Regions from separate parts of the Homo sapiens genome. Here all the other regions are linked to region 1. Evidence: fine-mapped expression QTL. A gene starts in region 1. Each other region holds a variant in brackets. All regions are shown on one strand. Distances are from middle to middle. Region 1 holds the start of EVA1B (eva-1 homolog B). Region 2 overlaps THRAP3 (thyroid hormone receptor associated protein 3). Region 3 overlaps THRAP3 (thyroid hormone receptor associated protein 3). Region 4 overlaps AGO4 (argonaute RISC component 4).

The links.
Region 2: its variant is fine-mapped to the expression of EVA1B in whole blood (INTERVAL, PIP above 0.99).
Region 3: its variant is fine-mapped to the expression of EVA1B in whole blood (INTERVAL, PIP above 0.99).
Region 4: its variant is fine-mapped to the expression of EVA1B in whole blood (INTERVAL, PIP above 0.99).

Annotation. Positions count from the first base shown.
Region 1 is chr1:36,320,588-36,328,729 of GRCh38, forward strand. EVA1B (eva-1 homolog B) reads right to left here and starts at 3,058. Exons shown (of 3, transcript NM_001304762.2): 1 at 2,872-3,058; 2 at 2,384-2,480; 3 at 1,443-2,138. The coding sequence starts at 2,450. The coding sequence ends at 1,708. It overlaps SH3D21 (SH3 domain containing 21), which reads left to right. Exons shown (of 16, transcript NM_001162530.2): 14 at 1-211; 15 at 328-391; 16 at 469-760. The coding sequence ends at 540. RefSeq lists enhancers at 556-1,440, 2,327-3,211 and silencers at 2,256-2,445, 2,536-2,585, 2,646-3,005, 3,096-3,325.
Region 2 is chr1:36,292,717-36,300,716 of GRCh38, forward strand. THRAP3 (thyroid hormone receptor associated protein 3) reads left to right here. Exons shown (of 12, transcript NM_005119.4): 8 at 1,135-1,219; 9 at 3,867-4,054. Among named protein-coding and RNA genes, the nearest start is that of SH3D21, 9.7 kb to the right of the region's middle. The variant C/T (reference allele first, on the strand shown) is at 3,418.
Region 3 is chr1:36,256,540-36,264,669 of GRCh38, forward strand. THRAP3 (thyroid hormone receptor associated protein 3) reads left to right here. Exons shown (of 12, transcript NM_005119.4): 2 at 2,843-2,945. Among named protein-coding and RNA genes, the nearest start is that of THRAP3, 36 kb to the left of the region's middle. RefSeq lists silencers at 1,071-1,130, 4,160-4,316. The variant C/A (reference allele first, on the strand shown) is at 3,087.
Region 4 is chr1:35,812,269-35,820,410 of GRCh38, forward strand. AGO4 (argonaute RISC component 4) reads left to right here. Exons shown (of 18, transcript NM_017629.4): 2 at 4,614-4,779. Among named protein-coding and RNA genes, the nearest start is that of AGO4, 8.3 kb to the left of the region's middle. The variant C/CA (reference allele first, on the strand shown) is at 4,530.

The sequences.
Region 1 (8,142 bases):
CAAAAGAGGAGGTGCCCCCCATAGAAAGAGCCTTTGCCCAAAAAACACGTCCTATCAAGCCGCCTCCAGACTCCCAAGAGACGCTCGCGCTCCCCTCGCTGGTCCCGCAAAACTACACGGAAAACAAGAATGAAGGAGTTGATGTAACGTCGCTGAGGGGCGAGGTGGAGTCTCTAAGGAGGGCGCTGGAGCTGATGGAGGTGCAGCTGGAGTGAGTGGGCAGTGGCGGGGGTTGTGGAAGGTAGGGTTCCCCCTAGCCCTCACCTGCGCAGCCCCTCACCTCCAGCCCTCACCTGCCCAGCCCCTCACCTCCGCCTCGGCCCGCAGGAGGAAGCTGACCGACATCTGGGAGGAGCTGAAGAGCGAGAAGGAGCAGCGCCGGCGGCTGGAGGTGAGGCGCGGGTCCCGGCGGGAGGGGGCTGACGGCGAGTGGCCCCCTGACAAAGTCTCCACCTCACTCCCGACCAGGTCCAGGTGATGCAGGGGACCCAGAAGTCCCAGACCCCGCGCGTCATCCACACGCAGACGCAGACCTACTGAGGGTGGGCCTGGGAAGGGACCGCGGCCTGACCTGGCTGGGGCCACCCACGTCCTTGCACACGACTTTGGGAAACGCGAGAAAGTAAACTCTGCCTAGCACGGCGCCACGCCGGTCTGGTCGCTGGGGGCGGGGCCTGCGCGGGGGCAGGGCCTGGGCCTCCGCATTCCTGACGGTCCCTCCCAGGCACATCTGGCCAACATGTGGCTCCCATTACCGTTCCCAAGGCCTGCGCGCGGCTATTTTTATCCACCGGATGGTGAGGGGCGGGGGAGGGTGTCTCCTTCGGACTCCAGCCGCGCACTGGAGAAATGGCGGGCAGGAGGGGCCCAGGCGGGGTCGGGCTCTTGACGCCCGGCCTAGATTCCGGAATCCAGCTGTGCGCCGGGGAGGAGCCGGGCGGGCCTTCTCGCCAGCTCGGACCCCTCCCAGCTGGCCTCCCTGTCCGCTCAGAGGGACTCCTGCCCTCTCGCTTGAACGCACCTCGGCGCAGACGTGAAGTCCACCGTCCAGCCCAAGCACGCATGCTTACACCGGGGCTAGCAGCACCTTAGCCTCGAGGTCAGGGTCCTGAGGCCTGGTGTGTGTGTCATTGCAGTGTATGAACCCAGGGCACTGTGGGGACAGGGCGACGTGTGTCCAGGCGTTTGCCGGTAAGGAATGCGTTTTGAATAAGGAATGCGCGCGCGCTTGCTCTGTGTGTGAGGCTGGGTGCAGGCCTGTGGGCTTCTGCTTTTCTGCTGGCTGTGAAGTGAATGCGGGCAGGTGTGCTGTATCGTCGGGTTGGTGGGTGGGGGTGGTGCAGCTAGGGTAAGGGAGTCAAGCTGGGCCTCAGTCCTGGGGCCCCTGCGTGGCAGGAGCCTGGGGGTCGCTGGGGGCAGGAGTAACAGAGGGAGAGACTGAGTCACTGAGAATGCAGCTTTCTTTCATTTGGTCACTTCACCTCTTCATCGACCCCAGAGAGGGAGTGGGGACCCTGCATGCTGCCCCCTCCCCGCCCCCGGGGTCTTCTGGCAGGACTGGGGAAGGGAGCCTCTCAGGGGGTGGCGGTCCACGCCCAGTAGCACCTGGGAGCTGTGGGGGCCGAGGCAGTCCGAAGGTGTGGGGTAGCTCTGAGCTCATGTGCAGGTCCGGTACCCCGAGCGCCTTGCAGCGGGAGCCGGGGCCCATCAGTAATAGTGCATGCGGCCCAGGGTGCCCGTGGCCGTGGGGCTGGGCCCCAGCGTGCCTGTGCCCAGCAGGTCCGGCTGCCCGGTGCGCCAGATCTCCCGCAGGATCCGTTCGCGCTCCTCCAGCCGCTGCGCCCGCTCCAGCTCCTCCGCCGACGTGAAGACGTTGACGTTGAGGGGCCCGTCCGGCTCTGCGGACAGCTCGGGGCCCGGCAGCGTGTCGTCGGGGCCCAGCCGAGTCACCGTGTCCTCCTCGTCCTCGTCGTCGTCCTCGGGCTCCAGGGTGCTGCTGCGGGGGTCCCGGCGCTGAGCCGGGCCCCGGGGCCGCGGGCGGGGCGCCCACGAGATGCTGATGACGAGCAGGCAGAGGGTGAGCAGCAGGCCGAAGCAGACGCCCAGCACGAAGTAGAGGCCGAAGCTCTCGGGGTTGGCTGCGGGGCACAGGGCGGGGGTCACGGAGAGGCCCGGACGGGTGGGGGTTGTCCCACTTCCGAAAGACCCCAGGTTCTAGGTGTGGGGGCGAGGCCTGTAACCCCTACTCGAAGGGCATTAGGGAACCGCCAGCGGGCAAGAGGGCGGGGAGCGGGGCGGAGGGGACGGACAAGGCGCTGGGGAGGGAAGGGGATGGTGGTCAGGGAAGGGTTCAGGCCCCCAGTCTTCCGGCGCCCGCCCTCACCGCGGATGTGCGCGTAGGCAGCCAGGCTGTTGCTGAGCAACTCCATGTCCCTTCGCGGGGCATCCATGCTGCTCTGGGGGGCAGCTCCCCTACCAGCCTGCGAGGTCAGCAAAGTCAGATCCTTCTCCCAGCCTGGAGCCCACCCCGACCCCTTCCGCGGGCAGCTCCTCTCCCGGGAGCCGCGGGCCCAGGTTCCACCCTGGAGAGAGCGCTTCCCTAACTTCGTGGCGGCCCGGGGCCCTGTCGGGGGGAACCCCTCTCCCGGGCGCGGACGCCCCTCCAGTCCTGGGAGCAGCGCCGGGGACCGCGGGAGGCCCCGCCCCCTGGTGAGGTCCCCAGCTGAGGCCCGGTTCCGCCGTCCCGGGGCGGGATGGAGGATAGGGACGCTGAGCCTCCACGCCCCAGGCGGGCTCCGGGAAGGGAAGCTGCCTCTCTCCTCGCCCGGCCGCCCCGCGGGGACCCACCGGCCCGGGGCCAGGCCCACTCACCGTCAGCGCCCCGCTTCCCGGCTGCCCGGCCCCAGCGCGTCCCGCGGCCGCATACACTGGGTCCGGCCGCCCCCGCCCGCTCGGGTCCCGCCGCCCCTCCGGCCCCGCTGGGCTCCCAGGCCGCGGCAGCACGGGCGGGACACGGACCGAGGGACCAGCCGGCGGAAAGTTTCCTCCGAGGAAAGAGGAGGGACGGGGCGGGGCGGGGCGGGCGGGGAGGCGGGGAGGAAAAGGGCTGGGAGAGGAAGGGGAGAGGAGCGGGCAGCCGGGAGGAGGGAGAGCCCGGCCCGCGGGCCGTCCGTCCCCCACAGGAAACCGCCGGGGAGGCCGCGGCAGGGACCCGCCCCCAGGCCACTAACAGCAACAACAGAGAGGCTGGAGCTCTGCCTGCGTGCGGGCCAAGGGCTAAACCTTGGACAGGTTCTTTCACTTACTCCGCCTGACAACCCTGCGACGTGATACCATTATCCCCACTTCGCAGATCAAATAAACGGAGTCTTGGAGAGATTGAATTGACTTTACCAAAACCGTCAGGATTTGAATCTGCTGCTCTCTGATCCTAAAGCCTGAGCTAGAAACCACCGCTCCCCCTCCTAGGAGGCCCCTTCCAGGCAAAGCTGCTTCTCTTCCCCAGACCCATGCTGGACTGGAAGGGAGGGGACTGTCCACCCCTCCTTCCAGGGCCCAGGCTTGAATGTGTCCCCTGGCCGAGCTCTGGTCTAGTCACGCAGGGTTAATGATTGTTGGACTCCAGCTTTGAGCCAGGGCCCGGCCAGCAGTCTCGCAGACCCCAGCGTGGGGCCTCTGTGCCTGCGAGCTCCTGCGCTCTTGTGCACCAAGCAGCTTGTGGCGGCTTGTGGCAGATCCCACCCCATCCCGTCCCCCACCCCAAGGCTAAACCTGCCTGTGCTCACACACGCATTTCCCACCTGGGCTTGTGCATGCAATGTGGTGTGTGATCAGTGTGTGTGGCGGGGGGCTTCCTTCTGCCCTGTCTCCACGGGGCCCCCCCATCATGGACCTCCCCTCCCTTGCTGGAGCTAGAATGAGGGGGAGGCCGCCTTGGCGGGAGCCTTAGAGAGGAGGAGGAAAGGGGGAGAGGAAATTGCAGACATAGCTGAAGGCGCTGCCTGAGGCCTGTGGGCCAGCGACCCTCTCCCTGTCCGGGCTGCAGACCCCTACTCCCCCAGTCCCGAGACTGGGTTCAAGTAGAGGGCAGATCTAGATGGGGGAGGACTAGGACTGACTCCTATGGGGATGGAAAAGGGACTCCTGGGTGTCTTTGTGACTGTTTAGTGTGTTCTGTGAATGTGCGGGCAGGTATTTTTGCCCACATCTGTATATTTGTCTATTAATGTGATGTATTTGAGTATTGTTGTGGGGGCGGGTATGTCTGTATATAAATCTGTGCAGCCACTAGTCAACAAATACTGTGTATGCCTAGCACTTCCTAGTCTAGTCCACAGCATCTGTGGGTTTAACCAACTTTGCATCAAAAATATTCAAAACCAAAATTGCATCTGTGCTGAACATGTACAGACTTTTTTTCTTATCATTATTTCCTAAACAATAGATATATTTAATTTTTTTTCTTTGAGACAGGGTCTCACTCTGTCACCCAGGCTGGAGTACAGAGGTGCTATCTCAGCTCATTCACAACCTTTACCTCCTGGGCTCAAGTGAGCCTCCCATCTCATTCTCCCAAGTAGCTGGGAGGGACCACAGGCGTGCACCACCATGCCTGGCTAATTTTTGTAGAGATGGGGTTTTGCCATGTTGCCCAGGCTGGTCTTGAACTCCTGGGCTCAAGTGATCCACCCACCTCAGCCTCCCAAAGTGCTGGGATTACAAGTGTGAGCCATCATGCCGGCCAATAGTGTATTTTCATAGCGGTTACATTATATTAGATATTATAAGTAATCAAGAGATGATTTAAAGTATACAGGAGGATGTGTATAGGTTAAATGCAAATACTGAACCAATTTATTTTACATCAAGGACTTGAGGATCCTTGGATTTTGGTGTCTATGGGAGGGAGGTCATGGAGCCAATCCCCTGAGAATACTGAGGGACAGTTTTTTTTTTGTTGTTTGTTTTTGTTTTTGAGACGGAGTCTCGCTCTGTCACCCAGGCTGGAGTGCAGTGGCGCGATCTCGGCTCACTGCAAGCTCTGCCTCCCAGGTTCATGCCATTCTCCTGCCTCAGCTTCCCAAGTAGCTGGGACTACAGGCGCCTGCCACCACGCCTGGCTAATTTTTTGTATTTTTAGTAGAGACCGGGTTTCACCATGTTAGCCAGGATGGTCTCGATCTGCTGACCTCGTGATCCACCTGCCTTGACCTCCCAAAGTGCAGGGATTACGGGCGTGAGCCACCGCGCCCAGCCCTGAGGAATAGTTTTAATGGGGATTTAACAATAAACAGAACAGACACAAATCCTTGCCCTCATGGAGCTGACACTAAATTGGAGAAACAATAGAAGATAATCTCAGATGCTTCTAAGTGCTGGGGGGCATGACAGGATAGGGTAATGCGATGGACAACACCTGGGAGTGGCTCTCACAGGGACATCCACAGTGAGACCTGAATCCTAAGGAGGAGGCAGCTGTGCCAGGATCTGGGGAGAGTGTCTGGGCAGGAGTAAGAACATGCTTGGGATACCTCCCTCCAAGGGAAGAAAGCCACGCAGATGGTGTGTGGGTGCAGGGGAGAGTGGCAGGGGCTGCCCGTGCAGGGACTCGATGGCCTTGTTGATGAGCTTTTTCTTTCTTTCTTTCTTTTTTTTTTTTTTGAGACGGAGTTTCACTCTTGTTGCCCAGGCTGGAGTACAAAGGCGCGATCTCTGCTCACTGCAACCTCTGTCTCCCGGATTCGAGTGATTCTCCTGCCTCAGCCTCCCGAGTAGCTGGGATTACAGGCATGCACAACCACACCCTGCTAATTTTGTATTTTTAGTAGAGATGGGGTTTCTCCATGTTGGTCAGGCTGGTCTCGAACTTCTGACCTCAGGTGATCTGCCCACCTTGGCCTCCAAAGTGCTGGAATTACAGGTGTGAGCCACCGTGCCCGGCCAGGAGCTTGGTTTTTAATGTAAGTGTGGTGGGGAGCTCCTGGAGCGTTGAGCAGGGGAGTGTCATGGCCCTGTGACACATTTTGGAAAGATCCCTGTGGTGGCTCAGTGTAGGGTGGGCCACTGTGGGCAAGAAGGGGAGCAGGGAGGGTGGTGAGTAGGCTGGCAGCTGTCCAAGCCAGTGAGGGCGGGGCCGGTGGAGAGGCGAGAGGGCTCAGACTCAGGTGGTGTTCTGAAGGGAGTTCCTGCACTGGACTTGAATGTGAGGGAGAGAGGAGTTTAGAACACTTTCATACTGGGCTGGGGCACCTGAGGAAAGCCCATGTGGGGAAGCAGGTTTGGGGGTAGTCAGTTTCACTGTAGATAGGTTAGACTTGAAATGTCCATTAGATATCCAGGTGCAGGTGTTGGCAATGCAAGTAGAACCCCCAGGAATCTGGCTGAAAATGATATTTGAGAGTCCTTACCACATAAGATGGATTTACCACCCCAGAAGTGGATGAGACCGAACATCTGGGGTAAGGGGGCAGAGAGAGAAGGGTCTGAAGCTCGAGCCCATTGAGGGGTCTCCTGGAGGTGAAGTCAGCAAGGAGAACCAGGCCAGAACAGGGATGTGATCAGCCATGTGTGATTGGGCTGAGAGGTGAAGATGAGGCCAGAATTTGCCCACTGCCTTGGCCGAGATTTGAAGACCATCAGCAATATTGAGTTTCTGTGGGTTGTATTCCTGTTTCTTCAAGGGGTGTATGTCAGTGACTGTTTGCACAGGTAGCTTATTTATGTGCAGCATTGCTGGGAGTGCATGAGCATGTTTAATGCCTGCCATCCACGGGAATATCGGTGTGTGCTACAGTGTGCTTGTATGACTACGTGTGTTGTGTGCCTCAGTGCCTCAGTTCATGTGGCACAGACCTGTGTCTGTGAGAGTCCACATGTGTGCTCCTCTATGTGCAGTCTAAAATTTTGGATCTGTTTCTGTCAAGCTGTTTCCATGCACCTCTGTGCTACGCAGCTCTCTGTATCTCTGCCTGCAGGCAAAAGTATGTTTGTGTCTGGGTTGGTATGTGACATATGTGTTTGGAGTGGGTCAGGTATGACTCAGCCCTAGTGGAGCAGGATGAGGGTTGAGATGATGGTTGCTGGTTGCTTCAGAGAGAGGGACGCACATTAACCAGAGTGCTGTCTTCTCCAGGGGCTTGCCGTGGCCAAGCCAGGCCAGGTGGGAGAAGCGGCAGCCTTGCCCTGGAGGGTTTTGAGAAGCACTGCTCCTGGAGGCCCTGGGGAAGGTCCCTGAAACCTTTGGCCAATGTGGCTGTCCCCATGGTCCACATGCCCTCCCCACCCCCTGCCTAGCTGCTTGACTGCCTGCTGCTCCCCAGCCCACCAGCCTGTCCGTGGGTCAGCCCAGCCACCCGCTTCGGATCTCTGCACGTGTGTCACCTGCTGTTCTGGCCCTCATCCCAACTATCCACCTGCCCATCTCCTCCCTACCTCCTCGCTGCCTATCTGCCCAGGACTTATCTGCTGTCTGCTCACCTGCCTGCTTGTTGACTGCTTCTCTGCCCTCCTATCTGCCTGTGAGACTAGAGATTTGTCACCTTGGAAAGCACGGAGAGTACTGCTAAGATGAAACACAGGAAGGACAGGCCTTGATGGAAGGTTGGGGGGCCGAGAGATCCAGAGCCTATGGGAGGGGACTTGTGAGTGCTGGCATATTCAGGACCCAGTGCAAACCCAAGCACAGCTCTGCTCCCGGCCCCAGTGGCCAAACTGAAGGCTTGCCCTGGCTATTCTGCCGTTGACATGGGCCTCACCCTACCACGGGGATAGGTCTTGGATGGAGGGAAGAGGGAGACTCACCGGGGGCCTCCTGAGTCCTTTGAGTGTCCCCATGACCCCAGCACCTGGGACAGCTGCTGGAAAGAGGGTACTGGCAAAAATTTGCTAAATGGACAATCATAGGCCCAGTGTGGTGGCTCACGTCTGTAATCCCAGCACTTTGGGAGGCCGAGGTGTGCAGATCACTGAAGTCCAGGAGTTTGAGACCAGCCTGGGCAACATGGCGAAACCCCATTTCTACAGAAAACTACAAAAATTAGCTGGACACGGTAGCACACACCTATAGTTCCTGCTACTCAGGAGGCTAAGGTGGGAGGATCGCTTGAGCCCAGGAGATCAAGGCTATGGTGAGCCGTGATCGTG
Region 2 (8,000 bases), 28 kb before region 1:
CCATGGCCTTATACTGGAGGTTGTAATAAAAGACTTTGTATCAGACATTAAACTCACCTTGTTAAATTCTGCTGCTAATGCACCTTTAATACAAAATTTACAGTAACATCCTTCAGACTCTAAGAGAGCTATAGGCATTTATATTTGAGAGTGTACAGGACATGCTTTGGGACAACAGTCTCTCACATTGGGCCTGAGGAAAACAGCTCTCTTGACATAGATTAACTCCTATATTCTTGGAAGCTGGCAAATGTTGCCTGAAATTACTGTGAGTTTCTGTAGGTAGAGTAAATGCTAGTTTCTTTTCTTGTCTTTTTTTTTTTTTTTTTTGAGATGGAGTGTTGCTCTGCCACCCAGGCTGGAGTGCAGTGATGCAATCTCGGCTCACTGCAACCTCTGCCTCCCAGGTTCAAGCAATTCTCATGCCTTAGCCTCCCAAGTACCTGGGATTACAAACGTGTGCCACCATGCCCAGCTGATTTTTGTATTTTTAGTAGAGACAGGGTTTCACCATGTTGGCCAGTCTGGTCTTGAACTCTCAACCTCAGGTGACCTGCCCGCCTCAGCCTCCCAAAGTGCTGGGATTACAGGCGTGAGCCACTGCGCCCAGCCTAATGCTAGTTTCTTTAGGTAAGCCTGTATATTAATATTTCATGGTAGTTTAATCATGGGTAGTTGGATTCTTCTGGAAGAATTTGCCTGGGGGCTAGAGGCGGGAGCTTGTAGGATTATCTCACAGAATTTTAAAGCCCAGCAGGTTTAAAGACTATTACATTTGGTTGTGGGAGTCAGTTCAGTGGATAGGGACTAGAAACAAAGTTGGCCTTATCTTTGAGGCTATGGGTGAGTCCATCTTTCTGTGTGTAGCAAAACCAGGAGAGAACAAAAACCTCTAACTTCTGTTACACTGTGGGAACCTGGGACTGTGTGTGTGTGTGTGTGTGTGTGTGTGTGTGTGTGTGTCTGCCTATGGGAGAGTATAAGTATATAAGAGTAAAAGTAATAGATACATAAGTCATGAAACGTAAGGAAAAATAATGCCTGTGAATCTATTAGCCAACTTAAGAGCTAGAATATTACCAGTATCATATTCACACAATGGAATACTATATCGTTTTGTATTTTCAATTTTAGGAGAATAGACATTTCCCCCAGTACATTCAGAAAACATGGTTTGGCTCATGATGAAATGAAAAGTCCCCGGGAACCTGGCTACAAGGTGAACTGTTGATTTGATCAGTAATTCCAACAAAATGAGTGCGTTGGGCATGAACTTGACAGAAATGTGTTTGTTTAAATTACTCTCTACTTAAGTTTGTGTTTTTCTTTTAAGGATGGGCATAATTCTAAAAATGAACTACAAAGGGTTAATTTTTATTAAATGTATCAACAACCTTTGTGAAGTGGTTAGAATATGGTAAATGACCCCAAAGTCTATTGAGGTGAGCTTGAGAAAAAAAAGAGAGGAGTTTTGGAACAAGTGCCCATGATGAGAGAAGAAACTTTTTGTGATATTTTTCTGCTTGTAAGTATTATCAAATCAACTGTATACATGCACTATTTCCAACCATGATTTCAGAAAGACATGCATGTCAGAGAAGAGTGAAATATTCATGTCTTAACTTAAGTAGACTGTTTTTAAACAGCTGGTCCAGTTTTTTTTCCTAACATTGTACCATATCTATCATCTGTCAATTACTGTTACTTTAAAGCTAAAGATTACTTTGATGGCCCAGCTACATTTGCAATGATGTGCACGTAAACACTGTTAAGAGGTTAAAGCTTGTATACAATCTGTTACTGTGAAATAACTAAATTGGGCTTTAAAAAAATCTTAGTATTTATTGATCTTCATTCACATATACAGTTGAAATTTAAAATAACAGATGGTTATTCCAATGCTGCTGAAACCTTTTCTAAAAAATACTTGTTTTGTTGGTTGAATGTGATGAGAGGCGCTTCTGGGCAGTCTCTCTTCTCTCCCACCCGTCTTTCCTCCTCCGAGTACCCCTTCTCCAGCTTTGTACTAGCCATGTAAAACCCAAGGTTTTCTTTAAAACATCAGAAGAGATCTCGTCCTCCATGCCCCAAAAAAGCCAACTCATTGGAGGTGTTACCCCTGGGAGCAGTGTTGCATTTGTCTTTTTGTCTTTTTTTGCTCTTTGGAGGATGCAGAGGCCCAGTTCCCTCTGTTAGGAAACAAATTAAGTGATAAAACAATAAACGGCCGGGCAAGGTGGCTCAAGCCTGTAATCCCAGCACTTTGGGAGGCCGAGGTGGGTGGATCACCTGAGGTCGAGAGTTTGACACCAGCCTGACCTACATGGTGAAACCCCGTCTCTACTAAAAATACAAAATTAGCCGGGTGTGGTAGTGCATGCCTGTAATCCCAGCTACCTGGGAGGCTGAGGCAGGAGAATCACTTGAACCTGGGAGGTGGAGGTTGCAATGAGCCAAGATCCCGCCATTGTACTCCAGCCAGGGCAACAAGAGTGAAACTCTGTCTCAAAAAAAAAAAAGGAAAAAAAAAAAAAAGAATAAACCTAGTTTCTGCCACTCCTGCTGTTAAACTTTTTTTTTTAAAAGTTTAGTAGTTCACATATGTAAACTATTAATGCAGAATGAACTGCTCATTTCTTCCTCCCTGAGTTACCTCCATGAGACAAATCCTAGTGTGGGATGTCCCGGAACTACCATGCACCTTTGCCCCACCGAGTTTCCCAAGAATTGTTGAAAGCCTTTGCTGCAGTGGTCTGAGCAGGTGTGCTGTTGCTGCTGCAAAACATACCTTCATAGCTGAACTGCTTAGGAAGCCAGCAGAGAAGTTTTTTCCTTCCTTCCTTCCTTCCTTCCTTCCTTCCCTCCTCCCTTCCTTCCTCCCTCCCTTCCTTCTTCCCTCCCTTCCTCCCTTTCTCCCTGTTTCTTTGGTTTCTTTCCCCCTTCCCCTTCCTTTCCCTTTCCTTTCACCTGATAATACCAGTTTATGAATTCCCCATAGTTTTTGATATTCCCTTTCTAGAGAAATTTGTCAGTATAACTCAGGGTTTTGAAGGCTGCTTAAGTCTTCCATTGTCTCTCTTTGGACTCAGTACTCAGAGATAATTCCAAGTGGAGGATAAGCCATGGGTGGATACTACAGTATAGGTAGGGGAAGGTGAGCTTTTCTACTCTTAGTGGTGGCTAATCCTGAGCCAGCCCAACCACCTACTTTTCCAGAGCTAATTTTAGCCTTCTCAACTTTTTTTTTTTTTTTTTTTTTTTTTTTTTTTTTTTTTGAGAGATAGTCTTGTTCTATTGGCCAGGATGGAGTGCAGTGGTGCGATCTCAGCTCACTGCAACCTCCACCTCCTGGGTTTAAGCGATTCTTCTGCTTTAGCCTCCCTAGTAGCTGGGATTACAGGCACACGCCACCTTGCT[C/T]GGCTGATTTTTGTATTTTTAGTAGAGAACAGGGTTTTGGTTGTTGCCCATGCTGGTCTTGAACTCCTGAGCTCAAGTGATCCGCCTGCCTCGGCCTCCCAAAGTTCTGGGATTACAGGCGTGAGCCACTGCACCTGGCCAGCCTTCTCAACTTCTAAACTAGCCAGAGTCATTACTGGGCCAGAAAGGAAACAAAGTGAGATCAATGCATAGCATTTTCAGAAGGCCAGCATCATTGTTTTGGAGGACTGGCGTGGGTTCTGTGAGGGATCCTTATGGAGTAACTTCTGTGGGACATCCTGCATCCCTTCCAAGCTTGGGTGAGATGCCTCACATTTCCCAGTGCTTCCTCTGCACCCCTCCATTGGAGTAAAAACCACAGTTTGTGGGATGGTTGAGTTGACAGCTCTGAATCCCAGAAACCTTAATTTTGGCTTATCTTTTGATAGGCTGAGGGAAAATACAAAGATGATCCTGTTGATCTCCGCCTTGATATTGAACGTCGTAAAAAACATAAGGAGAGAGATCTTAAACGAGGTAAATCGAGAGAATCAGTGGATTCCCGAGACTCCAGTCACTCAAGGGAAAGGTCAGCTGAAAAAACAGAGAAAACTCATAAAGGATCAAAGAAACAGAAGTACGTAAGCCCCTGTTACCCCTTCCAGACTCTTAAGTTTCTTGTCTGTCCCCTTTGGGCTATACACCAGAACTTTCAAATCAGAGGAGTTTAGGGTTAGTAATTATAGCAACCTGTTTCTTCTTTTAATCCATGTAAATGTCAGGTAGGGTCCCTAGTTTGAAAACAATTTCTACATCAAAATAGTGTGATCTTTGTCCAAAGAAGGCTTCATGAGAGAAGTTAATCTGTTAAATTGACCACAGGGATGGTGTGGAGAATCATTAGAATCATTTGGGAATTCCTTTTGCAGTTTTAGATGTACCTTTTTCATCACACATTTTCATGGGGAAGTTGTATTTTAGAAATGGCCCAAAGTCATTGTCAAGTAATAACACTGTTTAGTCAAAGAAACAGGGTGGAACTAGATAGTACATGATTGTTGATCTTAAGTGCCTTTTAAACTAGTTTTACAGACAGTTCCAAGAGAGGTGTTCCAGGTACTCCTTAAACAAAGGTGGCATTGTTGAACTTTGTGTGGCAACATTCATGCCTATGTCCTGATGTTTCTGTTTACGTTTTTGAATGTTCCATGACTTTTTAATCATGTGTCACGAAAAGTAGCACAGTTGAAGCCCCATACCTTCTGGTAAGAAGCAACACTTCTGCTGATTTTGAACTTTAGCTGGCAAGCATTTTTTTTTTTTTTTTTTTTTTGAGATGGAGTCTTGCTCTGTTGCCTAGGCTAGAGTGCAGTGGCGCAATCTCAGCTCACTGCAACCTCCGCCTCGCGGGTTCAAGCAATTCTCCTGCCTCAGCCTCCTGAGTAGCTGGGATTACAGGTGCCCACTACCACGCCCAGCTAATTTTTTGTATTTAGAGATGGAGTTTCACCATGTTGGCCAGTCTGGTCTTGAACTCCCGACCTCATGATTCACCCACCTCGGCCTCCCAAAGTGCTAGGATTACAGGCATGAGCCACCATGCCTGGCCGCGTTTTTATATCAGTTTTTCATAACCCCTTGAGATAAATTGAACAGTTGGTGTGATATCCATTTTGCCCATTTGAAAGATAAGCCAAGCTTAGAATAATGTGCCTTACGATCACAAGTATTGGCCGGGTGTAGTGGCTCATGCCTGTAATCCCAGCACTTTGGGAGGCCGAGGCAGGAAGATCACGTGGTCAGGAGTTCAAGACCAGCCTGGCCAATATCGTGAAACCCTGTCTCTACTGAAAAAAAAAAAAAATTAGCCGGGCATGGTGGCGTGCGCCTGTAATCCCAGCTACTCGGGAGGCTAAGGCAGGAGAATCGCTTGAACCTGGGAGGAGGAGGTTGCACTGAGCCGAGTTCTCAGCACTGCATTCCAGCCTAGGCGACAGAGTGAGACTTCATCTCAAAAAAAAAAAAAAAAAAAAATCACAAGTATCAGCTGACCTCAAACACGGATCTTTTGTTATACTTTGTCTCCCATTCCAATGTGTTACTTATGCATTAGGAGCCTTGGCAGCTTTTGGGGCCGCCCATAGATAAAGAACCTGCGAATCCTCAGCAGGGAATGGAAGTGGTAGTACAGTAGTGCCTGGGCCGCCACTTAGAAGTGGAACATGAACCCCTCAAGCATTTCAGAGTTGAGTCTGAATTACTAACTCTGATTTCCTCTCCCTGGAACACATGCCTACCTCTGACTTGCGATGTGACTTTGAACAAGTCCCCTGCAAACCCCGGTATTCTGTGATTTATTTATTTTTATTTTTTATTTTTTTGGACGATCTTGCTCTGTCACCCAGGCTGGAGTGCAGTGGCACGATCATAGCTCACGGCATCCTTGAACTCCTGGGTTCAAGTGATCCTCCTGCTTCAGCCTTCCAACTAGGCTGAGCTAGGAGTACAGGTATGCACCATGATGCCCGGCTAATTTTTAAAAATTTTTTGTAGAGACGAGGGCTTGCTATGTTTCCCATGCTGGTCTTGAACTCTTGGCCTCAAGTGATTCCCACCCACCTCCTTGGCCTCCCAAAGCATGGGATTACAGGCATGAGCTACCACACCTGGCCCGTTTTGAGACAGGGTCTTGCTGTGTCGCCCAGGCTGGAGCGCAGTGATGCAATCACTGGCCTACTGTGGCTTTGACCTCCTGGGCTCAAGTGATCTACCCATCTCAGCCTCACAGTCAGCTGGGACTACAGGTGTACACCATCATGCCTGGCTAATTTTGTATTTCTTGTAGAGTTGAGGTTTTGCCATGTTGCCCAGGATGGTCTAGAACTCCTGGGCTCAAGCAATCTGCCTGCCTTGGCCCTCTGAAGTGCTGGGATTACAGGCATGAGCCACTGTGCCCAGCCAGAACTTTTTTTATATAACTGAAGAATGACTTACCCAGGTGACACAGCTAATAAGAGACAATGCTGGCCGGATGCGGTGGCTCACGCCTGTAATCCCAGCACTTTGGGAGGCTGAGGTGGGTGGAGCATGAGGTCAGAAGATTGAGACCATCCTGGCCAACATGGTGAAACCCTGTCTCTACTAAAAATACAAAAATTAGCCGGGCATGGTGGTGGGTGCCTGTAATCCCCACTGCTCAGGAGGCTGAGGCGGGAGAATCGTTTAAACCCAGGAGGTGGAGGTTGCAGTGAGCCGAGATCGCACGACTGCACTCCAGCCTGGCGACAGAGTGAGACTCCATCTCAACAACAACAAAAAAAGACAATGCAAAGACTCAAATTTGAGGCCTTTTGAGAGTCTTTTTTTTTTGTTTTGTTTTGTTTTTGAGGTAGAGTCTCGCTCTGTCACCCAGGCTGGAGTGCAATGATATGATCTCGGCTCACTGCAACCTCTGCCTCCTGGGTTCAAGTGATTCTCCTGTCTCAGCCTCCTGAGTAGCTGGGTAGCTGGGATTACAGATGCTTTCCACCACACCCAGCTAATTTTTGTATTTTTAGTAGAGATGGGGTTTCGCCATGTTGGCCAGGCTGGTCTCGAACTCCTGACCTCAAGTGATCCAGCCGCCTTGGCCTCCCAAAGTGCTGGGATTACAGGAGAGAGCCACTACGCCCGGCCAGAGACTCTTATTTTTGAAAACCTCTTGAAATAGCACGGATGTTTAGTGGGGTCAGAGTTGAAGTTACATGAATCCTATCACAGTAACTTAGATTTCCCCTTTGTATGAATAAGTGTGTGTGGGTGAGGAGCAGGGAGCATGATGCCTTTCATAATGGAAGACTGAGGGAGGGAAGGACAATGATAGGTTACTGACATTTGGCTGGCTCTGCTACTCCTCCACTCCTGGGATCCTGGCCTTGCTGCCCCCTAGAGGTATTCAGTAACCTCCACTATCACATGGCAGGGCTGGTACTGACTTTAGTACATAGATAATGACTCATCGTATTAAGCTAATTTGCCCTAGTCTGTAATTTCCCCTAGATGAAGGAAAGGGAAGGGAAATAACTCTGGGAGAGTTGCGCCAGATCCTAGGCTTAGTCACACAACCTGTTTGAGCTCAGTGGGAGGTAATATGTGGAGTCGTGGTATAATTAGTCAGAGCTAGGTTAGAATCCAGACTCTGCTCGCTTCTCTCACCTGAGCCTCCTACCTGTAAAATGAGGGAAATAATACTGAGTTGTATTGTCCTTTACTGCATGCCAGCTATGTTGGTGTAAAGTGTTTAAACACAGTGTTTATTTAGAGAACCCTGTAAGACAGGTAGCATTCCTGTAAGAAATAAAAGTAATAGAACGCACTAACAGATGATAATATACAAAGCTATTTATCTGGCCCAGTACCAGATACTTTGGAGCTCTCAATATAGTGTTAATTTCCTTCTCCCTTATTAATTCATGCCTGTATCTTAGACTGAGCTCCTGGAGGCCATGGACTGTGTTTTGTTCCTGCTTCTATGTATGTCATATGTTTATCACAGACTCAGACATAGATGTGTCACTGAACATGACTGACAGAATTGAGAGGAA
Region 3 (8,130 bases), 64 kb before region 1:
TGGGCATTATCTACTAATTTCTTCTATTTGTGACCCATTAAAATCTGTTCTCCACGCAGCAGCGAGCATGTATCATTGCAGTTTGTGGTATTTTGAAACATAATTATGCTCCTATTTTATGCTCTAAACACTCCAGTGGCTGCCCTCATTACCCAGAGGAAAACCAAAGTCCTTACTTTGATTGCAAGGCCCTGTCCATTCAGCTGTGTTTCTGACCTGATCTACCAACAGCTCATTGGTAACCGTTTGCATTGCAGACATTCTTTTTTTTTGAGACAAGAGTTTCGCTATTGTTGTCCAGGCTGGAGTGCAGTGGTGCGATCTCGGCTCACCACAACCTCTGCCTCCCAGGTTCAAGTGATTCTCCTGCCTCAGCCTCCTGAGTAGCTGGGATTACAGGCACCAGCCACCTCGCCAGGCTAATTTTTTGTGTTTTTAGTAAAGACGGGGTTTCTCCATGTTGGTCAGGCTGGTCTTGAACTCCCGACCTCAGGTGATCTGCCCGCCTCGGCCTCCCAAAGTGGTGGGATTACAGGTGTGAGCCACCGCGCTTGGCCAACATTGCAGACATTCTTATTTTTGTCTCTTCCTCAGACAGTCAGGCATGTTTCCTCCCCAGGGTCTTTGCATTTGCTGTTTCCTCAGATAAGGCCCAGTATACTCTTTTTCTTCCGTCTCTGCTCAGCTGTCTCATGAGAGAGGCCTTCCCTTAATGCGTGATATAAAATTGTATAACTTTTACTCCTCCAGGTGCCCTCATCTGCTCACTAGAATGTCAGTTCCAGGCATGAAGGGACTTTTAAATTATTGAACCTCCAGTGTTTAGAATAGTGCCTGGCATGTAGTCAGTACTTAATAAATTATTTGTTGAATAAGTGGACAATTAGTAATGTGTAGAAGGGAAGAGGGTCTATTGTGGAGTCTCCTTGCTAATACACTGCTGTTTGGCCAAAGGAGGTTCAGGAGATAGAGGCTGACAAGTATGCCTGTGGCTGGCCAGATGACATGCAGGACAGGCTAGGCAGGAGGAGGGCAACTGTGGTGGCAGGGGGTGACTCAGGGTTTCAGGTGTCTCTTCGCTGTCACAGAGTAACTAAAGGCCAGAGCCTCAGATTTGCTTATTCACTCATCGCAACAATGGGGAATTGAAGACTTGTTGGAATGATAAAATTCTTGCCAATATCCAAGAAGAGGTTAATTAATAGGAAATATGATGGAGTAATAAAATGGGAGATTTATGTGTGTGTACTTTTGCCATCTGGTTAGAATTAGAGGGAAAGATGGATGTATTGGAATAGATTGTGTTTTTTTGTTGTTTTGAGACAGAGTCTCGCTCTGTCACCCACGCTGGAGTGCAATGGCACGATCTCGGCACACTGCAACCTCTGCTTCCCGAGTTCAAGGGATTCTCCTGCCTCAGCCTCCCGAATAGCTGGGATTACAGCCATGTGCCACCATGCCCGGCTACTTTTTGTATTTTTAGTAGAGACATGGTTTCACCATGTTGTCCAGGCTGGTCTTGAACTCTGGACCTCGTGATCCGCCCGCCTCGGCCTCCCAAAGTGCTGGGATTACAGGCATGAGCCACCACGCCCGGCTTGGAATAGGTTGTTTTTTAAATTCAACATGTTACAGCATAAGAGCAGTTTGCAGTCCTGTAGCAGACATGGGATTTCCCTCACTAGCTAGGCAGAGCTGACTGATGTGAGCCCTCTGTGCCTCTGGAGTGAGGAATCAGGGGAAGAAGTTTTGGCTGATGTAACCTAGGCTGAATTAGAAGAATACATAGCGAGAAGACATGAAAAAGTATTTTGAGTGAGTTTTTTAAAGTGCTATATTTGTACTTACATTAATAAAGAAACACATACCGACATTGTTATTTGGTAAAGGATCTGAATACTAAGCCTCATCTGGATAAAACAGTATTATCCTGTTAGTAATTTTTTTTTTTCTTGAGGCGAAGTCTCACTCTGTCCCCCAGGCTGGAGTACAGTGGCGCGATCTCGGCTCACCGCAAGCTCCACCTCCTGGGTTCACGCCACTCTCCCACCTCAGCCTCCTGAGTAGCTGAGACTACAGGTGCCTGCTGCCACGCCTGGCTAATTTTGTTTTTGTATTTTTACTAGAGACGGGATTCCACCATATTAGCCAGGATGATCTCGATCTCCTGACCTCGTGATCCGCCCGCCTTGGCCTCCCAAAGTGCTGGGATTATAGGCGTGAGCCACTGCCCCTGTAATAAGAATAACAACAAAGTTTTGATAAGGCAGGAGTGAGGACATCTAATTACCTACATGAGCTTGCTGGTCTTGGAACTTGTTTTTCCTGTTTGTTTTGGAAAACGCTGGACATAGCTTTGATGTATGACCATGTTCATAGATCTGGGAATAGACAACTGGAGCAGAAGGGAATTTTTGTGCTTTTATGGGTAGGTACGGAGAGTTACTTTACCTTGAAATGCATTTGTTAAATTCATTTTAATATACTTCTGTTCATTGCTTTCTTATTTTAAACATCTGATTTTTGTCAGGTTCACCAGGTTGAGTTTTGTGGAGCTTGTGAATTAGTCTTGCATAATGAAAACCTTAGCACCTGAAATATTGCCAGTGAAAGTATCAGGTTACAGTAAGGAAGGCTTTTGCTTTCCATACTGTAGGAGGTTAGATGAATGAAAACCTGTCAGACAGAGGCAGACCATCTCATACTTTGAGAGAAAAGCTTGGGTCCTTTTGGAGTAAAGCTGAGGGCTAAAGTAGGGTTTGTGTTTATAGATTTTGAGCATCAGTAACAGAATCTGCATTTGGGTAGCCATTTTATCACTACTTATTTTCTCTCATTTCAGAAGTGTATGCTGACTTGTAAAGTGAAGAAGCCAGTGGTGCTGCGGGTGTTCTTTTGGGGTAGTGTCTGGGATCCAGTACGAGTTGAATCATTGTTCAAATAAGGTAAAAGCATGGTGGTAAAAGAAACTAATAACTTCACTAATTTGTAAAACCAATCTTACGTTAAGAATTGATTATTTCGAGACCAGCCTATGCAACATGGTGAGATCCTGTCTCTACAAAAAATAAAAAAATTTAACCAGG[C/A]CTGGTGATACACATCTGTGGTCCCAGCTACTTGGGAGGCTGAGGCAGAAGGATAGCTTGAGCTCAGTAGTTGGAGACTGCAGTGAACCATGTTCATGCCACTGCACTCCAGCCTGGGTGACAGCAAGACCCTGTCTCAAAAAAAAAAAAAAGAAAAGAAAAAGAATTGATTATCCAGATGATTCGTTAATGGAAGTTCTGGGTTCTTATGAAACAGTATTCGTTTGAAAAAGGCTGTCGGTAAACTTGACATCTGTAATCATTAATATTTTGGGAAGCAGTCCCTTTTCATGCTTATGTTACTTGGATATATACTTGTTTTAATTAAAATTGGGGGCCAGGCGTGGTGGCTCCTGACTGTAATCCCAGCACTTTGGGAGGCCAAGGCAGGTGATCACTTGAGGTCAAGAGTTCGAGACCAGCCTGGCCAACATAGTGAAACCCCGTCTCTACTAAAAATACAAAAATTAGCCAGGCATGGTGGCAGGCACCTGTAATCCCAGCTACTTGGGAGGCTGAGGCAGGAGAATCACTTCAATGCAGAAGGTAGAGGTTACAGTGAGCCGAGATCTTGCCACTGCCCTCCAGCCTGGGCAACAGAGCAAGACCTTGTCTCAGAAAAACAAAAACAAACAAAAGCTGTATATATTTGCAAAAACACTATAGTAGACATACCAGACCATCAGCTCCCTAGGGCTCTTTATGAAAAACAGCAGTCCTTCCCCACTCCCCTTCCCAGCCCCTTAGAAGCAGTCATTTTCAACTCTCCAGTTCCTTTTGGTATATCTCTCTAAATAATAAGCCTCTTTTGCTTTACAGTGTTTGTTATTATTTATTAACTTCACTCCTTAAATAGTGGTCGTTTTTGGTAGGCTTACCTGACCACCTCACATGCCAACATTAATTGTCACTCTGGGGCCAGGCACCTGGCTCACGCCTGTAATCTCAGCACTTTGGGAGGCCGAGGCGGGCGGATCACAAGGTCAGGAGATCGAGACCATCCTGGCTAACACGGTGAAACCCCATCTCTACTAAAAATACAAAAAATTAGCCGGGCGTGGTGGTGGGCGCCTGTAGTCCCAGCTACTCTGGAGGCTGAGGCAGGAGAATGGTGTGAACCCAGGAGGCGGAGCTTGCAGTGAGCTGAGATCGCACCACTGCACTCTAGCCTGGGCTACAGAGCAAGACTACGTCTCAAAAAAAAAAAAAAAAAAGGCACTCTGGTTATAATATAATTTTAGTCATGGCAGTATCATGGTTTACAACATTATTATGATTACGTAGCGCTTATTCACAGCCCAGTCATTTTACATGTTGTGTTTACTTTTCCTTTTTTGTACAACTATTTGTTTTCTGTTTTTAATAATCTTTTTGTCTATTTTGCTTAGTTTCTATGTCTTTATCAGTAATTTCTCCCTAAACTCTAACCATAAGTGTAAATCTTCCACAATACATTTAAGCATTTTGGCTATATTATAAATTTTATCTTGGGCTAAGCGCAGTAGCTCACACCTGTAAGCGAAGCACTTTGGGAGGCCGAGGAGGGCAGATCACTTGAGGCCAGGAGTTCGAGACCAGCTGGCCAACATGGTAAAACCCCATCTCTACTAAAAATACAAAAATTAGGCCGGGTGCGGTGGCTCACGCCTGTAATCCCAGCACTTTGGGAGGCCAAGGCGGGCAGATCACGAGGTCAGGAGATCGAGACCATCCTGGCTAACACGGTGAAACCCCATCTCTACTAAAAATACAAAAAAACTAGCCAGGCACGGTGGTGGGCGCCTGTAGTCCCAGCTACTCGGGAGACTGAGGCAGGAGAATGGCGTGAACCCGGGAGGCGGAGCTTGCAGTGAGCTGAGATCGCGCCATTGCAATCCAGGCTGGGCGACAGAGCGAGACTCCATCTCAAAAAAAGTAAAAATAAAATAAAAAATTAGAGCCATTTCTGTAAGCAGTTCATATGCTATTCCAAAAGGAAATCCCAGAGAGACGAACTACACTGATCACATGTATCTGGACTAAGTTCTGGTTGAGTGTGTGGATCTACCTGAGGTGGAGTTGGTGTCTCTAGATAGCTTCGAGTAGTATTTTAAATAATTTTAAGTGGAAGCAACCGGTCGGGTTCTCCTTGATTTCTTTTGTAAACTTAGATGATTAGTATGATCCAAAATGGTAGTAGATCTTTAAATCATTTTTGGTCTCTTACGTAGAGTTGTGTTTGTATTTAAGACATCTCCGCTGCTCCCCCAAACTCATGTGGAGAGTTACTGCAACAGGAAAGGCTTAGTGGGTAGAGACTAGAAATGGCAAGTATAAATGACAAATCTAAAAGTGACTGGACAGTACTAGATTGGGTTCTCAATTTGAAGATATAATCATCGTTGTTCTCAAGGACAGTGCTGCTCAAAAGAAGAATGTGAGCCACATGTCATTTAATACATTTTAGTAGTCACATTTAAAAAAACAGATGAAATAAATTTGAACGATATGTTTTATATAATTCAATATATCCAGTACATTCTTATTTCAACATATAAGTGATATAAAGAATGGTGAGATATTTTACTTTCTGTTTATACCAAGCCTTAGAAATCCCATGTTTATTTTATACCTGTAGCTCATCTCAGTTCAGATCAGCCACATTTCACGTGCTGAGTCTACATATGTATTGGATGGTACAGTTCTAAGAGTTCATACTTCTGAAGGAACAGATAAACTAGTATGATTAAGTTAATGAATGATGGCCTGCCACATTCCAAACATAATACAAAACAGTGATATAGTAATATAAAACAAAATAAATCTAACACACACGTTTTTTTCCTCCTCTAAACCTCCATGTGATCATCTTTGGGAAGATGATTTGATCTTAAAAAGACCATTGTCTGTAAAAGCTGTCAAACAGCTTATTTCTCCTACTGTAGTTCTATCCAGGCTTTATGTAGAACTCTTTGTAAACAGTGGATGTCTGTATATCAGTATGGGGGTGATCTGCAAAGAATGTCCATGGCCCACTGGCTCTGAATCCCATTCTCAGTTTCTTCAATTAGAATCTTGATGGATGGATATTTTTTTAAAGTTCTGTAGGTGATTACAGTATTTATCAGTGTTTAGCCCAAGGCTTTAATAGTAATGCTTCTATTTTATTTTATTTTATTTTATTTATTTATTATTATTATTTTTTTTGAGATGAAGTCTTGCTCTGTCTCCCAGGCTGGAGTGCAGTGGCGCGATCTCGGCTCACTACAAGTCCACCTCCCGGGGTCACGCCATTCTCCTGCCTCAGCCTGCCAAGTAGCTGGGACTACAGGCGCCCGCCACCAGGGCCGGCTAATTTTTTTTTTTTTTTTTTTTTTTTGTATTTTCAGTAGAGATGGGGTTTCACTGTGTTAGCCAGGATGGTCTCTATCTCCTGACCTCGTGATCTGCCCACCTTGGCCTCCCAAAGTGTTGGGATTACAGGCGTGAGCCACTGCACCCGGCCTATTTTATTTATTTTTTGGAGGCTCTGTCGCCAAGGCTGGAGTGCAGTGGCTTGATCACGGCTCACTGCAACCTTGACCTCCCAGGCTCAGGTGATCCTCCTGCTTCGGCCTCCTGAGTAGCTGAGACTATAGGCACAAGCCACCATGCCCAGTTAATTTTTGTATTTCTTGTAGAGATGAGGTCTTACTATGTTGCCCAGGCTGGTCTCAAACTCTTGGGCTCAAGTGATCCACCCGCCTTGGCCTCTCAAAGTGCTAGGATTTCAGGGGTGAGCTACTGCACCTGGACAATAATTCCATTTTTAAAAATAGTTAAGTGTCATGATTGGCTGCTTAATTTAGCTTAGAAAAGATTTATCATAATGAGAGCTGGAAGGAAACCACAGGTCGTTAGTTAATATAGATTATAGTGTCTTTATTAAGTTAGGAAAGCTGAGAATTTCTCTTAAGAATTGAGAAGAAAATATTCCCCAATGGTAACATACTCATTTAAAATGGGGGCTAAAATTACTGTTACTGTCCCTGAGAGACATAGGAGAGGAGCCTCTGGGGTGAATTGAATATTTTTTTTAAGCCGCCAGCTGTGCTATTCATTTTGTTTCCCCAATGATTAATTGCATAGATGATCCTGAGCTTAATAGACACGCATTGACTGAATTCTCAGAGGAGTATCTCAAGTTGCTTACACTGGGGATGTTTTGATGAAAAAGTTCTAAGTGAACTTTTAGCTTGCTGTTGATTTTCCCTGCTAACATCCAGCATCGAAGAGATTTGTCTTCCAAAGGTGAATGTGACCTTTTGACTTAGGTCTTTCTTGATAATACGACCTTTCCTTCTAGCACACCTCTTCAGTGTGACACATGCTAATTTAGCCAGGAAAGATATAAAATGCTTTATTGCTGTGTAGGAAGATACCTGATCACTTATTACTTGTAGGCAGATTTGGTTTTTGTTTGTTTGTTTTTTTGAGACGGAGTCTCGCTCTGTCGCCCAGGCTGGAGTGCAGTGGCGCAGTCTCAGCTCATTGCAAGCTCTGCCTCCCAGGTTCACGCCATTCTCCTTCTTGTAGGCAGGTTTTAATAAATAGCAAGAAAATAGAATCAGTTATGAAATCTGTTTACTCCCAGGGAAGTTCCTAAATCTCTCCCTCCAACCACTCTGGTTCTGTGGCTAAACATAGTTTAAGGTGTTTACTCACTTGTGTGTCAGGCACTGTGTATGTGCTTCCTTAATTCTCCTGGCAGTCCTGTAAGGTGTAGGTCACATTTGGAAGATGGAGAGAGTTAAGTATTTTGTCCAGGAATGGGTGGCAGAGCCAAGATTGAACCCAGTTCGTTTTTGCTACCAAAGCCTCTACTTACTGCCGAACCTGGCCCAGTATTACAAAGTGACTTGTCCATTTAGGACTGAGCATTTTAGAATGATAATTTGCTTTAGTGTATTTCCTCACCTAACACCCACCTTAGTGCCCCTCTTGAAGTAACACTGTATTATGGACATATGGACAGCCCAGAATGGAACGTGGATTCTAGTCTCAGTTGCTTATTGTGTGTTGAGAT
Region 4 (8,142 bases), 510 kb before region 1:
GCTTATTAAAAGAAATTATCACTCACCATCTAACTTTTCTCTTTGCCAAGGAAAGGAGATACAAATAATATTTACTTTTTGCCACTTCTTAATCGTTTTTCTTTCAATTCTTCTGCCTCTGCCTCTTTGACATTCAAGTACTTCAGATAATAATACATATCACAAGATTATGAAGTATATTGGGAAGAAAAAGTGCTAGGCTAGGAGTTAGGAGATTTGGATTCTAGTTAGTATTTAAACTCAAAGTCGTATGTCCTTAAGCAAGTCATTTGATCCAAGTTTCTGTTTTCAAATTTCTATTATAAAGCTATATTTCTTACAACATTTTTTTTCTTTTTTTTTAAGACAAGTCTCATTCTGTCACCCTTGCTGGATTGCAGTGGCATGATCTCGGCTCACTGCAACCTGCACCTCCCAGGTTCAAGCTATTCCCCTGCCTCAGTCTCCCGAGTAGCTGGGATTACAGGTGCCCACCACCACACCTAGCTAATTTTTGTATTTTTAGTAGAGACGGTGTTTTGCCATGTTTGCCAGGCTGGTCTCAAACTTCTGACCTCAGGTGATCTGCCCGCTTCAGCCTTCCAAAGTGCTGGGATTACAGGCATGAGCCACTGTGCCTGGCCTCTTACAACTTTATGAATGATACAGTGATTGCTTAAGTGTATCTTGAAATATGCAGAGTTGACTTATTTTTATGATTTAATTGGGTTAATTCAGTATGTTTATCACCTCTCACATTATTTACTATTTACTTCTTACCTTGTTACCTTGTTTGTAATTGTCTTATCAATTGTATTGATAGGTCCTCTTGTACACTAGAAGTAGAACTCAACTCCAAGCAATAAGAATACTTTTAGTGGGCCGGGCGCAGTGGCTCACGCCTGTAATCCCAGCACTTTGGGAGGCCAAGGCAGGCAGATCACAAGGTCAGGAGATCAAGACCATCCTGGCTAAGATGGTGAAATCCTGTCTCTACTAAAAATACAAAAAATTAGCCGGGCATGGCAGCATGCGCCTGTAGTCCCAGCTGCTGGGGAGGCTGAGGCAGGAGAATGGCGTGAACCCGGGAGGCAGAGCTTGCAGTGAGCCAAGATTGTGCCACTGCACTCCAGCCTGGGTGACAGAGCGAGACTCCATCTCAAAAAAAAAAAAAAGAATACTTTTAGTATAAATTATGTGCTTTTGCTTCATTGAAAAATAATTGTCAGCTGGGCGTGGTGGCTCATGACTGTAATCCCAGCACTTTGGGAGGCCTAGGTGGGCAGATTGCTTGACCCCAGGAGTTCAAGACCAGCCTAGGCAACATGGCAAAACCCCAAACCTCGTCTCTACCAAAAATACAAAAATTAGCTGGGGTGGTATCTCAGTTACTCTGGAGGCTGAGGTGGGAGGATCAGTTGAGTCCAGGAGGTCGAGGCTGCAGTGAGCCATGATTGACCCACTGCACTCCAGCCTGGGCAACAGAGCAAGACCCTGGCTCAAAAAAAGAAAAAAAGAAGAAGAAGAAGAAGAGGAAGAGGAAGAAGGAAGAAGGAAGGAAGAAGGAAGAAGAAGAGAGACACTTTGGGAGGGCAAGGTGGGCGGATCACAAGGTCAGGAGTTTGAGACCAGCCTGGCCAATGTAGTGAAACCCCGTCTCTACTAAAAATACAAAAAATTAGCTGGGCATGGTGGCGGGTGCCTGTAATTCCAGCTACTTGGGAGGCTGAGGCAGGAGAATCTCTTGAACCCGGGAGGCGGAGGTTGCAGTAAGCCGAGATCGCACCACTGCCCTCCAGCCTGGGCAACAGTGTGAGACTCCATCTCAAAAAAAAAAAAGAGAGAGAAAGAGAAAGAAGAGAGAGAGAAAAAAGGAAGGAAGGAAGGAAAGAAGGAAGGACAGAAGGGAAGGAAGGAGAGAGAAAGAAAGATAATTATGATTTTTGTGTTTAGATTCTATCTGGGATTATTGATACTGTTCAGTTCAACATTTATTGAATTCTTATAACATGATGGCTGTTGCATTAGATATTGAGAAGATTAATAGGAGGTTCATTTCTTTTTTTTAAATTTTTTTTATTATACTTTAGGATACATATGCAGAATGTGCAGGTTTGTTACATATGTATACATGTGCCGTGTTGGTGTGCTGCACCCATTAACTCATCATTTACATTAGGTATATCTCCTAATGCTATCCCTCCCCCCTCCCCCTACCCCACAACAGGCCCCAGTGTGTGATGTTCCCCTTCCTGTGTCCAAGTGTTCTCATTGTTCAATTCCCATCTATGAGTGAGAACATGCGGTGTTTATAAGAGTTTGCAATCTAGTGAAGGAGACAGAGTAACTTAACAAGTGGTTTCTTATACTTGCTCTATGGGTTCCCCTATAGAGAGAGTCTTTTGAACACAGAGGACGGATCCTCTAGTCTGGGAGAATCAGGAAAGGCTTTCCAAGGAGGTTACATCTAAACCTAATTCTGAAGGATAAGTAGAATATAGTGGGAAAATGAATAATTAATATGTAAAATGATTTTTAATACTTTAAGTGTTAGAATATGGTGATCTGTAACCATAAATATCATAAAGTATTTGCTCTAATTTTCCTAAGTGATGTTGGAACAGAACAACTTCTTTTTGTTGTTGTTTTAGACTGAGTCTCCCTCTGTCGCCCAGGCTGGAGTGCAGTGACACAATCTCAGCTCACTGCAACCTCTGCCTCCCGGGTTCAAGCGATTCTCCTGCCTCAGCCTCCTGAGTAGCTGGGATTACAGGCATCCACCACCGTGCCCGGCTAATTTTTGTATTTTTAGTAGAGACGGGGTTTTACTATGCTGGCCAGGCTGGTCTCAAACTGCTGACCTCAGGTCATCTGCCTGCCTTGGCCTCCCGAAGTGCTGGGATTACAGGTGTGAGCCACCACGCCTGGCCCAGAACAACTTCTTGCTTCCAAGTTTTCTCTCCTTAGTGAAGTCTTTGTTCTCAGTGAAATGCCATTGCAGTAACAGAACCTGTTGTAACTTTCCATTGTAACCACAGCCCACTTTGCTCAGTGCCTATTCATAGCAGAAAAGATGTTCATTTTTTAGGCCAGTATCCACTTGATATTGTCATCAAAAAGGAGTAAGATTTTCTCTAAACGAGTGTCTCCCAGACTGTGCTCCACAAGATCTTTTTCTGCTGAGTATTAATAGATGTTCAAATCTTAGAGAGAGAGAGAGAGTTCTGTGGGGAAAAAAAACAGTTAGCTAAATGATGAGGTAAAGTTAACTAGGTTTATTTATTACATGACTTTTTAGATAATTTAATATGATAATATGCATTGAAATTTTAAGAGGGGAGAGAGTATGCAAGGTTTCTTTAACTTATAGAATCTTTTCTTTTTTGAAATAGTTTGGAAATATTACTCTATCTACATCAGGGTTTCTCAACCTCTTTCTCAGCACTATTGATATTTTGGACTGGGTAATTCTTTGTTGTGGGGGGCTATCTTATGCATTGTAGAATGCGTAGCTGTATCCTGGGTCCTTTCCACTAGATGCCAGCAGCACTTCTCAGGTTGTGACAACCAAAAATGTGTCCATATATTTGCCAAATGTTTCCTGGGGAACAAATTTGCCCCGGGTTGAGAACCACTGGTCTAGACTGTACATTCTTTGAAAGAAGGGGCTCTGTCTTCATTCTGAGTCCATAGTACAGGTTAGGCATGTTATAACTGAATAAATGAATAAATGTCTGTGGAATAAACTAGATCTTATGAGCAAGAAATCTCAGATTGTCCAGGTTCTAAAAATATCAAGTTATAAACGAGAAGGTCTAGCTTTATTGGTATTGTTTCACTATCGAAATTAGCAAATAAATTGATAAATAGAGCTGTGGTTTAATCTTCTCCTATATGTACAATTTATAATGATGCAGGCTAATTTGTGAGAGATTAGTAGGTCATTTCCAACTCTGGGGATGGTGGCTCCAGAGTTTAGAGATAGTTTTTAAAATGCATATAATTTTGTAAGTCTAGCTATAGAGCTTTACTAATGCTCATGCAAGATTTTATACTGTAGCCTATACTTGAGAGGAATTCATCATTCTAATTTTGATGTCCTTATGTTAAAAATAATAGCAACTTGGCAAAATATTTAGAAATCTAGAGAACCTTAGGTCGAAAGACACCCCAGATTCTTTATATTAGAGTACATACAGTGAATAATAAGATCTCAATAACTGTAGCCATCATCATCATCATCAAGAAGAAGAAGAATAAATAGCACAGCAGGCCAGGTGCGGTGGCTCACGCCTGTAATCCCAGCACTTTGGGAGGCTGAGGCAGGTGGATCACGAGGTCAGGAGTTCTAGACCAGCCTGGCCAATGTGGTGAAACCCTGTCTCTACTAAAAATACAAAAATTAGCCAGGCCTGGTGGCAGGCTCCTGTAATCCCAGCTACTGGAGAGGCTGAGGCAGGAGAATCGCTTGGAACTGGAAGGCAGAGGTTGCAGTGAGCCAAGATCAAGCCACTGCACTCCACCCTGGGTGAAAGAGCGAAACTCTGTCT[C/CA]AAAAAAAAAAAAAAAAAAAAAAAGAAAGAAAGAAAGAAAAAGAAAAAAAAAATAGCACAGCAAATGTCTTTCAATCTCTTTAGGACCTCCGGCTAGCCTGTTTCAGCCACCTCGTCGTCCTGGCCTTGGAACTGTTGGAAAACCAATTCGACTGTTAGCCAATCATTTTCAGGTTCAGATTCCTAAAATAGATGTGTATCACTATGATGTGGATATTAAGCCTGAAAAACGGCCTCGTAGAGTCAACAGGTAAGGATTAGAAACAGTGGATTTCTGTATATTTAAGTGCATATAATTTATTTATGTATCATATTGTTCTCTAAATTCATCCAACATGTAGGCTTTGTTATTCTCTAAGATGATAGGTTTCTTAATAGCAGGTTTGCTGTCTCATGCTTGGTTATCCTCTGTAGGCTCTAGCAAAGTGCTGGATATATTATTAGTCAATCAGTAAACACTTATTTAATTATGGAAAAGAAAGGTCGCTCTTTCATTGACCAAGGGTAGCAAAAATTTACTAAAATAGGTGAAGACATTAGTGTCTGTGGGAAATAGAACTATCTGGAAATTCAATTTTTATTATTATATGTTGGTTTTGGACATGAGAAAGATGTATATATATATATATATCAATACAGAAGATTACTTGCAGATTTTTTCTTGGGGGAAAAGAAAGAAAAGTCATCTTGGAGTACTGAGAAAACTAAGCACAGAGAGAAGCTCTAGTTATTTCTAGCATTATCTAAGAGTGGTCCTGATGAGATGATGTAAGTATTGTGGTCTGTATAGCAGGAATTTACCTGGTGTGAAGACAGCCCTGTAGCAAATATTCTTACAGTGTGCTGAGTATACATCCACTTTTGTTTTCTCTGTTTCTATGCAGTGACATTCAGGCAATATTTGATATTAAGATTCTTGCTTTTTTAAGATTGCTCTTTGCTGTCAAGTTAAATATTTTGTGCCGCTTGATATTTTTCTCATTATGGATCAAAATTTGGCTTTCTGGTGTAGTTCATTCTCTTGTAAACCCATTATTGGCTATTGTGTAACTGAGATCAATAGTAGTAGAAGTGGTGGTAATGGATAACATTGATCCATCCAACGAATATTTTATTGAATGTTTATTTTGTGCCAGGTATTGCCCTGTGCTCTGGGAATTCACCATGAACAAAACAGGCAAAAGTTTCTACCTTTGAGGAGCGTATATTCTAATGGGGAAGACCAACAATAAATGAAGAAGCAAACAAAACATGTATTTTATTAGTTGGTAATAAATGCAATAAAGAAAAAGAAAATAGAGATGGAAGATAGGAAATGGGGATAGGATGAGCACTGAGATTTATATATGAATGAATATATATGTTTATATATACATATACATGCATATGTAGATATACACACACGTATGTATATGTATATACGTATGCAAATACCTAGAGAAAGTCTCACTGAAAAGTGATATTTGACCTAGAGGAGGTGAGGGATATCTGCATGAAGAGTGTCCCAGGCAAAGTCAGAAGCTTGGTGAGTTCAAGAAACAGCAGGCCGGGCGTGATGGCTCATGCCTGTAATCCCAGCACTTTGGGAGGCTGAGGCGGGCAGATCACTTGAGGTCAGGAGTTCGAGACCAGCCTGGCCAACATGGTGAAACCCTGTCTCTATTAAAAATACAAAAATTAGCTGGGCATAGTGGCACGTGCCTGTAATCCCAGCTACTTGGGAGGCTGAGGCAGGAGAATCACTTGAATCTGGGAGACGGAGGTTGCAGTGAGTGGAGATCATGCCGCTGCATTCCAGCCTGGGCAACAGAGGGAGACTCTGTCTCAAAAAGAAAGAAAGAAAGAAAGAAAGAAAGAAAGAAAGGAAGAAAGGAAGGAAGGAAGGAAGGAAGGAAGGAAGGAAGGAAAGAAACAAACAGCAGATAATTCTGGATTGCTGGAGTGAGTGAGTGGGGGAGAGTGATAGGAGATGAGGTTGGAGAAATTTCAGAAGGCCTCTATCATGCAGAACTTGTAGGCATTCATAACACTTTGTCATTTATTCTGGTTAGGTGAGTTTTAAATACTAAACCCACAACGTGACTAAATAAATCTAAGACATGACAAACTTATATTTTTAATGGATTGCCCTGGATGCTGTGCTGAAATTAGACCCTAGCAGGTAAGGGTGAAAAGCATGGAAATTAATTAAGAGGCACTTGGAATGATTCAGGTGAAAAGTAATGGTGGTTTAGACTTGAGTAGTATAATTGATAGTGATGAGAAGTGGTCAGATCCTGCAAATATTTTCATACTACTGTCAATAAGATTTACTGATGGATTGAACATGTGGTGTGAAAGAAAGAAATTAGTCATGATCAATTCCAGGGTTTATGTCCTGAGCTACTGGAAAAAAAGGAGTTGTCATTTATCAGATGGGGAAAACTGCAAGAGAAGCAGAAGCAGGGAGTAGCAGATCAGGAGACCTGTGCGTTTTGGACATCAGGGTTGAGATGACTATTAGACATGCTAGTGGAGATCGGCTGTGGTAGCTCGTACCTGTAATCCCAGCACTTTAGGAGGCTGAGGTGGGAGGATTGCTTGAAGCCAGGAGTTTGCAGCAAGCTTAGGCAACATGGCTAGACTCTGTCTATATTAAAAAAAACAAAAGGCCGCGCGCGGTGGCTCACATCTTTGGATGTGAGCACTTTGGGAGGCCGAGGTGGGTGGATCACGAGGTCAGAAGATTGAGACCAGCCTGGCTAATATGGTGAAACCCTGTCTCTACTAATGATACAAAAATTAGCTGGTCATGGTATGGTGGTGTGTGCCTGTAGTCCCAGCTACTCGGGAGGCTGAGGCAGAAGAATCACTTGAACCCGGGAGACGGAGGTTGCAGTGAGCTGAGATCGTGCTACTGCACGTCAGCCTATTCGACAGAGTGAGACTCTGTCTCAAAAAAAAAAAAAAAAAATAGCACCACTGCACTCCAGCCCAGGTGACAGAGTGAGACTCTGAGTCTTAAAAAAAAAAAAAAAAGGAGGTTGAATACAGTATTAAGGTTGGATTCAGGGAACAGTTCGAGGCTGGAGACAAACATTTGAGAATCATGAGCTTATTGATGATAAAGCCATGAGACTGGATGAGATTATGTTGAAAGTGAGTGTGTGTGGAGAAAATAAGGCTCCTACACTGGGTCTTGAAGCACTCCAATATTTAAAGATTTAACTGAAAGATTAAAGGCGATGAGGAAGTATCAGCAGGAAGATTGGCATGGAGAGACCACTGGGATAGGAGAAAACCAAGGGAGTGGTGCTCTGGAGGCAAAGGAAGAAGATGTTTTAAGTTGGAAGGATGGATTATCTAATGTTCAAGGAGCATTGAATTTAGCTATATGGAGCCCACTGGAGGACGTCGATAACAGTAGTTTGGTAGAGAAAAAGCCTTACTTGAGAAAGTTCAAGGGAGAAAGGGGAAGAGGAATTACAGACAACTCCTTCAAGGGATTTTGATACAAAAGGGAGCACAGAAATAGAATGTTCAGACGGGGAGAAACTGAGATTAAGAAAGTTTAATTTTTTATTTATGTATTTTTTTTTAAGATGGAGTCTCACTCTGTCACCCAGGTTGGAGT